Regions from separate parts of the Homo sapiens genome. Here all the other regions are linked to region 3. Evidence: fine-mapped expression QTL. A gene starts in region 3. Each other region holds a variant in brackets. All regions are shown on one strand. Distances are from middle to middle.

What was found.
Region 1: its variant is fine-mapped to the expression of PCED1B-AS1 in whole blood (INTERVAL, PIP above 0.99).
Region 2: its variant is fine-mapped to the expression of PCED1B-AS1 in whole blood (TOPMed, PIP above 0.99).

Annotation. Positions count from the first base shown.
Region 1 is chr12:47,362,834-47,365,601 of GRCh38, forward strand. All of the region lies in intron 1 of LINC02416 (long intergenic non-protein coding RNA 2416), which reads left to right. It overlaps MIR4494 (microRNA 4494), which reads right to left and starts at 1,436; the gene lies at 1,353-1,436. The variant C/T (reference allele first, on the strand shown) is at 1,301.
Region 2 is chr12:47,349,149-47,351,916 of GRCh38, forward strand. No RefSeq gene overlaps it. Among named protein-coding and RNA genes, the nearest start is that of LINC02416, 3.2 kb to the right of the region's middle. The variant TA/T (reference allele first, on the strand shown) is at 1,370.
Region 3 is chr12:47,214,875-47,217,642 of GRCh38, forward strand. It overlaps PCED1B-AS1 (PCED1B antisense RNA 1), which reads right to left and starts at 1,569. Exons shown (of 3, transcript NR_026544.1): 1 at 1,510-1,569; 2 at 1,291-1,390. PCED1B (PC-esterase domain containing 1B) reads left to right here. Exons shown (of 4, transcript NM_138371.3): 3 at 1,348-1,815.

The DNA.
Region 1 (2,768 bases), 150 kb after region 3:
CCTAAAGTGAGGACCCCTGTCCTGGAGAGTGGCCCAATTGCACAGGAATTTACATGAGTGAGAAACAAAATTTTGTTGAAATAATACCCTGGGATTTGAAAATTTAATTATTCTTGCAACAGTCCATCCTATCCTGATTAATATGGGAACCCGAAAGATAGGAGTGAATGAAACAATATAGTTTCTTTTCCCTGAAGCAATTGTAATTCCAATCAAAATATCAATAGGATTTTTTTGGAGACTGACAAAATGTTGTAAAGGTCTTGTAGAATAATAGAGGAGTGAGAATAGCCAATACAACTGTAAATGAAATAATGAAGAAATAGTTTTATCCAATATTAAGATATTTTATAGGTAGAGAAATTATAAGAAATAAGAAAGCTGTTAATGGAGAATAAAGACCCCAGAAACAGACCCAAATACCTTTAAGAACTTAAAGTATTAATATTAATATAAGGCCATGTGCAGTGGCTCAGGCCTGTAATCCCAGCACTTTGGGAGGCTGAGGTGGGTGTATCACTTAAGCTCAGGAGTTCGAGACCAGCCTGAGCAACATTGCAAAACCCTGTCTCTACAAAAAATATAAAAATTACCTGGGTGTGCTGGTGCATGCCCGTAGTCACAGCTGCTTGGGAGGCTGAGGTGGGAGGATTACTTGAGCCCTGGAGGTCAAGTCTGCAGTAAGCCATGATTGTGCCACTGCACTCCAGCCTGGGTGACAGAGTAAGACTTTGTCTCAAAAAAATAAAATAAAATAAAATATAAATAAGGTGGTATTTTAAAGTTAATGGGAGAATATGAATAATTCAGAAATGTTGTGATGAACATGCCATTGGGGGAAAAAGTGCAGAAGTATCTTATGCCCAAACAAATTCTATGTGGATCAATAACTTGAATGTAAAATATGAAACCATAACAATACTGGAAAAATCATTGATCTTTTTCTCATAATTTTTAACTGGGGAAAAGTGACAGACATAAAAGATAAGATTGATAAATTTACTTATATAAAAGTTAAAACTTTTTCAAGACTAGAATACCGTAAAGTCAAGAGATAAACCACAGGATAGAAAAAAAAAGTCTGCAATTTATATAACAGGAAGAGGGTTAATTTCTTTTATATACAAAGCAATTAAAAAATCAGCAACAGAAAACTGAACAATTCAATAGAAAAATAAGTTTGCAACAAAAACAAAGCAAACAGCCAATAAACACATAACATTTTTAGCTATCTAAAAAAATCAAGGAATGTAAGTTAAAACAAGATACTGTTTTTCACTTTGTATATTTTGCAAAAATA[C/T]TGGAGCTTGCACCCACCCCACCCAACCCCATTCTATGGTTTTACTTTCTGAGGTTTCAGTTACCTCTGGTCAGCCACAGTCTGGAATTTTCCATTTTGTATTTTCAGACTGCAGATGACCAGGGTAACTAAAACTTCAGAAAACAAAGTATTAAATGGAAAATTCCAGAAACAAACAACTTATACATTTTAAATTGTGCAGCATGGTATAATCCCATGGATAAAGGAGAACTACTGTAAAATGTTGATCTTACTCAAGAGTGTGGGAAACAGGACCACTCATGTATTATTAATGAAATGTAAATTGCTACAACTTTTTGGAAAGCAATTTGGCAATAACTATTAAAATTTAACAAGCACATTCTCTTAAACTCAGCAATTCTCCTTTCAGGAATTTTTCCCAAGGAAACGCTTTCACCAGGCGGCAAATATATACTGTATAGGAGTAGCATGATACTATTATTTGTAATAGTAAAAAAAAAAAAAAAAATTTAAATGCCCATCAAGAGAGGATTAAATAAACTATAGTGGCTCTGTAAAATGGGATATTACATAGCTGTTCCAAAGAACCAATGCATTTCTATGTCTTGATATGAAAAGTATCCAAACTAAACTGTTTTAAGTAGGAAAAAAAGGTAGAATACAATATCATTATAAGTGAAAATTCCTAGAATCACGTTTATACATATATTTATATACATGTATGTATATACATACAAATATCTGAGAAAAAAGAAATAATAGCTATGATTATCTTCAGCTATAATTACATTAAATATGGATTTGTAAGTAAGGAGGTAGGCGTTTACATTTCATACCCATTTGTAAGTTTTACAGCTTATGAATGTGTTGCTTTATGGTTAAAAACAAGATTTTAAACTATTAATCCTTTCATGCAAATATTAATTCTCCATTTCTACCATTCAATCTATATCTCAAAAAATTTGCATATACAAAAAAAACGGACCAAAGTTGTGGATGTTCAGAACATGTTATAAATGAGTAAACGAAGTCACCAATCATCATGAGAGGGGAGCACAATCTTTAGAAAGTCAAGCCCTGTTTCCACAGCAAGGAAAAATTCCCCAGGTTTAAGTGGTAATGGTTCTCTATCAACATTCCAAAAAGAAATTCAGTAATAATAGTAGTAGTAGCTGACATTTACTGAGTAGTGACTAAGTTGGATTCAGCAGTCAGCCCTTTTACACGCATCTTTTCTCTTTTTTTTTTCTGGCAGAGTCTTGCTTTGTTGCCCAGGCTGGAGCACGGTGGCATAATCTCGGCTCACTGCAACCTCAGCCTCCTGGGTTCAAGTGATTCTATTACCTCAGCCTCCCGAGTAGTTGGGATTACAGGTGTGCACCACCACGCCCAGCTAATTTTTGTATTTTAGTAGAGACAGCATTTCACCATGTTGGCCAGGCTGCTCTCAAACTCCTGACCTCAAGTGATCCACCCACCTTGGCCT
Region 2 (2,768 bases), 130 kb after region 3:
ACACGCACTTGGATTCTTTGCTTTGCAGGTCTCTTGGACATTTAAGTAGAAGTGACATTTATTACCCAATGCTTACTAATACTGTAGTTCGGGGATGGGCAAACTACAGCCCCCTTTCCCCACCTCTGTCATTTTCTAAATAAAGTTTTATTGGAACACAGCCACTCTCTTTCTTTCACATATTGTCTCAGGCTACATTTATGCTACAGAAGGGTTGCCAACCTCTGCTGTAGACAGTTACTTGGAACACTTTGCAGAGAAATGTGGCAAGGAGAAATGTAATCTCTTTCCTAGAAATATCTACCCAAAGAGGTAATTTATATTCAGTAAAATAGTGTCCTAGTACAGTAACAAATTAGCCTTACAGTTGATTTCCTGTTAACTTCAGACTGAAATATTCACTAGCCCTTCTGAATGCTCAGTGTCATTACAATGATGTATCCACCAGCCATGGGCAACACTCTACTCTGGGCCAGGAGTTGTCCTCAGTTTTGCATTATTCTTGCTTAATTTTAAAAGTCAAACTTACATTTATTAAGGTTAATAAAGTCCCAGAACCTCATCAATGGCTAAATAACCTTTCTCTGGAAACCACATTGTTTTTTTCAGAAGTAGTACTTCCCTTTAAGCATCTATAAACCTATTTTATTTTATAGAACATGGTATTGGCCTGCCTTTAAAAATGAGTTCCTTTTTTTTTTTTTTGAGACAGAGTCTAGCTCTGTGGCCCAGGCCCAGGGTGGTGTGCAGTGGCACGATCTCAGCTCACTGTAATCTCTGCCTCCCAGGTTCAAGCGATTATCCTGCCTCAGCCTCCTGAGTAGGTGGGATTGCGTGCACCACCATGCCAGGCTGATTTTTGTATTTTTAGTAGAGATGGGGTTTCACCATGTTGGCCAGGCTGATCTCAGACTCTAAGTTTCTATTTCTTTAACAAATGTCTTTCCAAGTACTTGAGGTACAATTTCTATGATGCTTCCAAAAAAAAAAATTAACACATATTTGTTGGGTGAATAGAGAGTATGTATCAGAGTGGGAGGAACATGAGAGTTCAACTCTCAGAAGTTCCACTTCCTGCTAGTGTATGATAACCCTCTGAGCCTCAATTTCCTTATCCTTAAAATAAAAGTAATCTCTATGTCATAAGATTGTGGTCAGGATTTTAAACAATGCATGTAAAATGCATAGTGAGAGCCAGACACTTTACAAGTGGTGATTTAGTGAATGCCAGTGAAGTGGGCTTAGTTATTTTTCTTTTCAGATTTCTTTTTGATTTAGTTGGATTTTCTTAGAGGTGAACTAGATGCTTAAAAGTAGTCATGCTTAAATTTATTCAGGCAAACTTTAACAAATTTAAGATACCGTGCCT[TA/T]TACTGAAACAACAGTTTCAAGACACAGTTTGTAGCTTGAACTGGAAAGAGAATATGAAGATAAAGGACACCAGAAGGCTCTGGCACAGCTCTGGTGTCGCCGACGCTACTTAGAGCCCTAACTCCCTTACCCTCTTTCCCCAGCCTTTCAGTGCTTCACAGATGCTTGCCATTGGTCACACAGTGGCCAGAGAATGAGTGTTTGGATGATTGTCTGTCAATCCTCCATCCTGAGAAGAGAGGCAATAATTACCCCTGCCCAGATGATCCACAGCCATGGAAGGCATTCATTCCATCCTTTGGGGCAGTGATGCTTAGAAAAGCCCTCACCTGATGGCAGGCTGAAAGATCTGAATTGCAGTCCCAGTTCCGCAACCCGTCAGCTATGCAACCCCAGACACAGCAATCTGCACCATTCTGAGTCCTAAGTGTCTTCAGCAAATTAAATGAGATATCTGTGATCCTTCCAGATTTATAGCCTTTTCCATCAGGGAAGTGAAGTATATGCATGAACTTTAAAGGAATAGGGGGCTATATGCCAGCCTAAAATATCCATTCTGATTTGGGACAGGTTTCTCAGACATTTATTCTCAAGATATCCCACATTGGCTCTTTTCTCAGCTGCTAAGATCTGACCCTTGCAATAATCAGGTTTCCAGAGGTATGGAACACAACAAATTAGTAGGCCCTAGAGGGCTACTAATGGCTGTCTCCCACCTATGTAAATACACATAAATAATCACTCAGTCATCCATTCTAGAATCTTGCTAGTGTTTGCATTATACTGACTGGTGGAGCATCTCAAATCTGAAACTTGAAATGCTCCAGTGAGTATTTCTTGTCAGCGTTCAAAAGTTTCAGATTTTGGAGCATTTTGGATTTTGGATTTTTAGATTTGGGATGCTCAGCATGTATAAGAAATAAATTTTTGTTTTTGTTTTTTAATAAATTACCTAGTCTCAGGTATTCTGTTATAGAGCAGAAGCCAGGCTAAGACTGTGTTCATAATAGTGGCTCATCATTTGTTTGGCAATATATTTGTTATTAAAATATTTCACTGTGACAATACTCACTGTGATAAATTTTATTCTACAAACAACTTTCTTTAGGGTATTTTTTTACAATCTGAGGATTATACAAAACCACCTGATAAAAATAGGCGCAATAATTCTTGGGCTTTTAGTTTCAAAGTCTGTTTTCCCATCTGTTATCCAAAGTCTGGGTCGGTCTACACAACCAAAGCAAAATGTAGGATTCTGTAATTATCCTTTGACTCAGAGACAAATAGAATATCAGTAGAAAAGGGACATCTGTGCTCATCTGATTCAATACCAGTCAGAAATATGATTCTTTGAAACATCTAACAACCATAGAGGACAATCTGCTTTATTGAACCCA
Region 3 (2,768 bases):
CTATATTTTGGGGTGGCATATTTTTTATTTTTGAGATGGAGTCTCGCTGTTGCCCAGGCTGAGGTGCAGTGGCGCAATCTCGGCTTGCTGCAACCTACGCCTCCTGGGTTGAAGCGATTCTCCTGCCTCAGCCTCCCAAGGACCTGGGATTACGGGAACCTGGGGGTGGTATATTCTGATCTTCTGTAGTCATGCACTGGGACCTTCTGTAGTCATGCATTTTCTCTCTCTCTTTTTTTTCTGATTCATTATTTCCTTTTCTTTTTCATCTTGGTATTTGTAGGGAAAGTGATATTCCTCTCCCCGAAATCATATTATTCCAGACAAAAGAAAACAAATGCCTACACTTATCTAATCAATCAGAAGACCATCTCCCCCACCCTTTTTTTTTTTTTAAAGATGGAGTCTTGCTCTTGTCACCCTGACTGGAGTGCAATGGGACGATTTTGGCTCACTGCAACCTCCGCCTCCTGGGTTCAAGCGATTCTCCTGCCTCAGCCCCCCGAGTAGCTGGGATTACAGGGGCCCACCACCACGCCCAGCTAATTTTTGTATTTTCAGTAGAGACGGAGTTGCACCATGTTGGCCAGGCTGGTCTCGAACTCCTGACCTCAGGTGATCCACCCGCCTCGGCCTCCCAAAGTGCTGGGATTACAGGCATGAGCCACAGCGCCAGACGAACCATCTCCCTTTTAAGCACGCTGTCCCCTTGAGTTACCTGCTGGTTTCAAGTGGAACACTAAGGGAGGAAGCAGAAAGTTCTTATCTTGCTCTGCCACATACTGGATCTAGCTGAGGCTGGGGCTCAGGCCTGTGGTTTCCTGTAGTGTGGACTGAGCCATTTTTCCATCAAGACGTCAGTGGAGAGATGAAGTGAAAGGATTTAAAAGCGGTTTGTGGCCTGCCATGGTGGCTCACCCCTATAATCCCAGCACTTTGGGAGGCCAAGGCGGGTGGATCACCTGAGGTAAGGAGTTCGAGACCAGACTGGCCAACATGGTGAAACACCATCTCTACTAAAAATACAAAATCAGCCGGGTGTGGTGGTGGGTGCATGTAGTCACAGCTACTCGGAGCCTGAAGCAGGAGAATCGCTTGAACCTGGGAGGCAGAGGTTGCAATGAGCCGAGACCATGCCACTGCACTCCAGCCTGGGCAACAAGACCAAAACTCCGTCTCAAAAAAAATAAATAAATAAAAATAAAAGCGGTTTGTAAACTGTAACACCTTGCACAGAAACACAAGATTACTACTATTAAATATTATTTAGAAAAGTAGAGTTCTTCTTACCATTTCCCTGTTTCTTTCTTCTCACTTCCTCCTTTCCCCTTCTGACCATCTTTTCAGCCGTGAACATACCACACCAGCAAGAACAATAAGAGCCAAGGGTCTGAATTGTTTAATCAAAGGAAGAGTCAAAATAAGCTACACCCAGATTACTGAGAAAGGTGAAATGAAAACAAGCTCAAAACCAAATTCCAGGAAGATGCTGTCTTTGTATTGACTTACCATTTCATGTTTTCACACATGTCAAAGTCTTGAAGCTTCGGTCATTAGTCTTCCGCTTCCTAAAGCAAGAAACTAAATGCTGACTTGTGTCGTTTGCCCCAGATGCCACCGGAAATGTCATCTTCTCCCCAGACGCTGGCTTGCAAGCACAGCAGCACCCAGAGGCTAACCTATTTCCCCTATAGCCCAAGCTCTGAGATCTCCCGTCTGGTCACAATGATCTACAGGAGAGGAAGAAAGCTATCTAGGGACGAGATCTAGAATCAACTGAGAGAGATGCTTAAAAATCACCAGTTACTTTAATGAGTAAGTACTTTTCAGTTTTTCCATTTTATCTGAAACTTTAAGTTGGCATTTCTGACCAGCCTTTCTTGAGACCATCATTTTTTGGGCACTTACTGTAGACAGGAATCAGCACCCTAGCCTCCTTCAGCCCACCCCATGTAACACTAAAGAGACAACTGGTGCTTGGCAATAACAAAAATATTAGTGATTGATAAACTTGTAAATTTATTAAAATGGACAGTGAAAGAAAACAGCCAATTTAGTTGTGAACTGGAGAAGGGACGTGAGGCATCTGTTGTCTGCAATCTTGTATGTTGTGGTTGACCACAAAGGCTTGGCATCAGGTTTTACTTCCAGCACTACTTCTTATAAAATGGATGACCTTGGGCAGATTACTCAATCTTTTAGCCTTAATTTTTAAAAGTATAAAATGGAGAAAATTAGAATATGTAGTCCAGGTGCGGTGGCCCACACCCGTAATCCAAGCACTTTGGAAGGCTGAGGCAGGTGGATTATTTGAGTCTAAGTTCAAGACCAGCCTGGACAACATGATGAAACCCTGTCTCTAAAAAAAACTATAAAAATTAGCCAGGCATGGTGGCACAGGCCTGTAGTCCCAGCTACTAGGGAGGCTGAAGTGGGAGGATTGATTGAGCCTGCAGAGTTGCTGCAGTGAGCCATGATTTCGCCACTGAATTCCAACTTGGGCAACAGAGTGAGACAAGAAAGAAACAGAGAGAGAGAGAGAGACAGAGAAAGAAGAAAAAAAAAGAAAGAAAGAAAGAAAGAAAAAGAAAGAAAGAGAAAGAAAGAAAGAAAGAAAGAAAGAAAGAAAGAAAGAAAGAAAGAAGAAAGAGAAAGAGAGAAAAGAAAAGGAAAGAAAGAAAGAAAATAATTTCTTAGGTTGTTTTTGTTTTTGTTTTTTTGTGATGGAGTCTCACTCTGCTGCTCAGGCTGGAGTGCAGTGGTGCTAT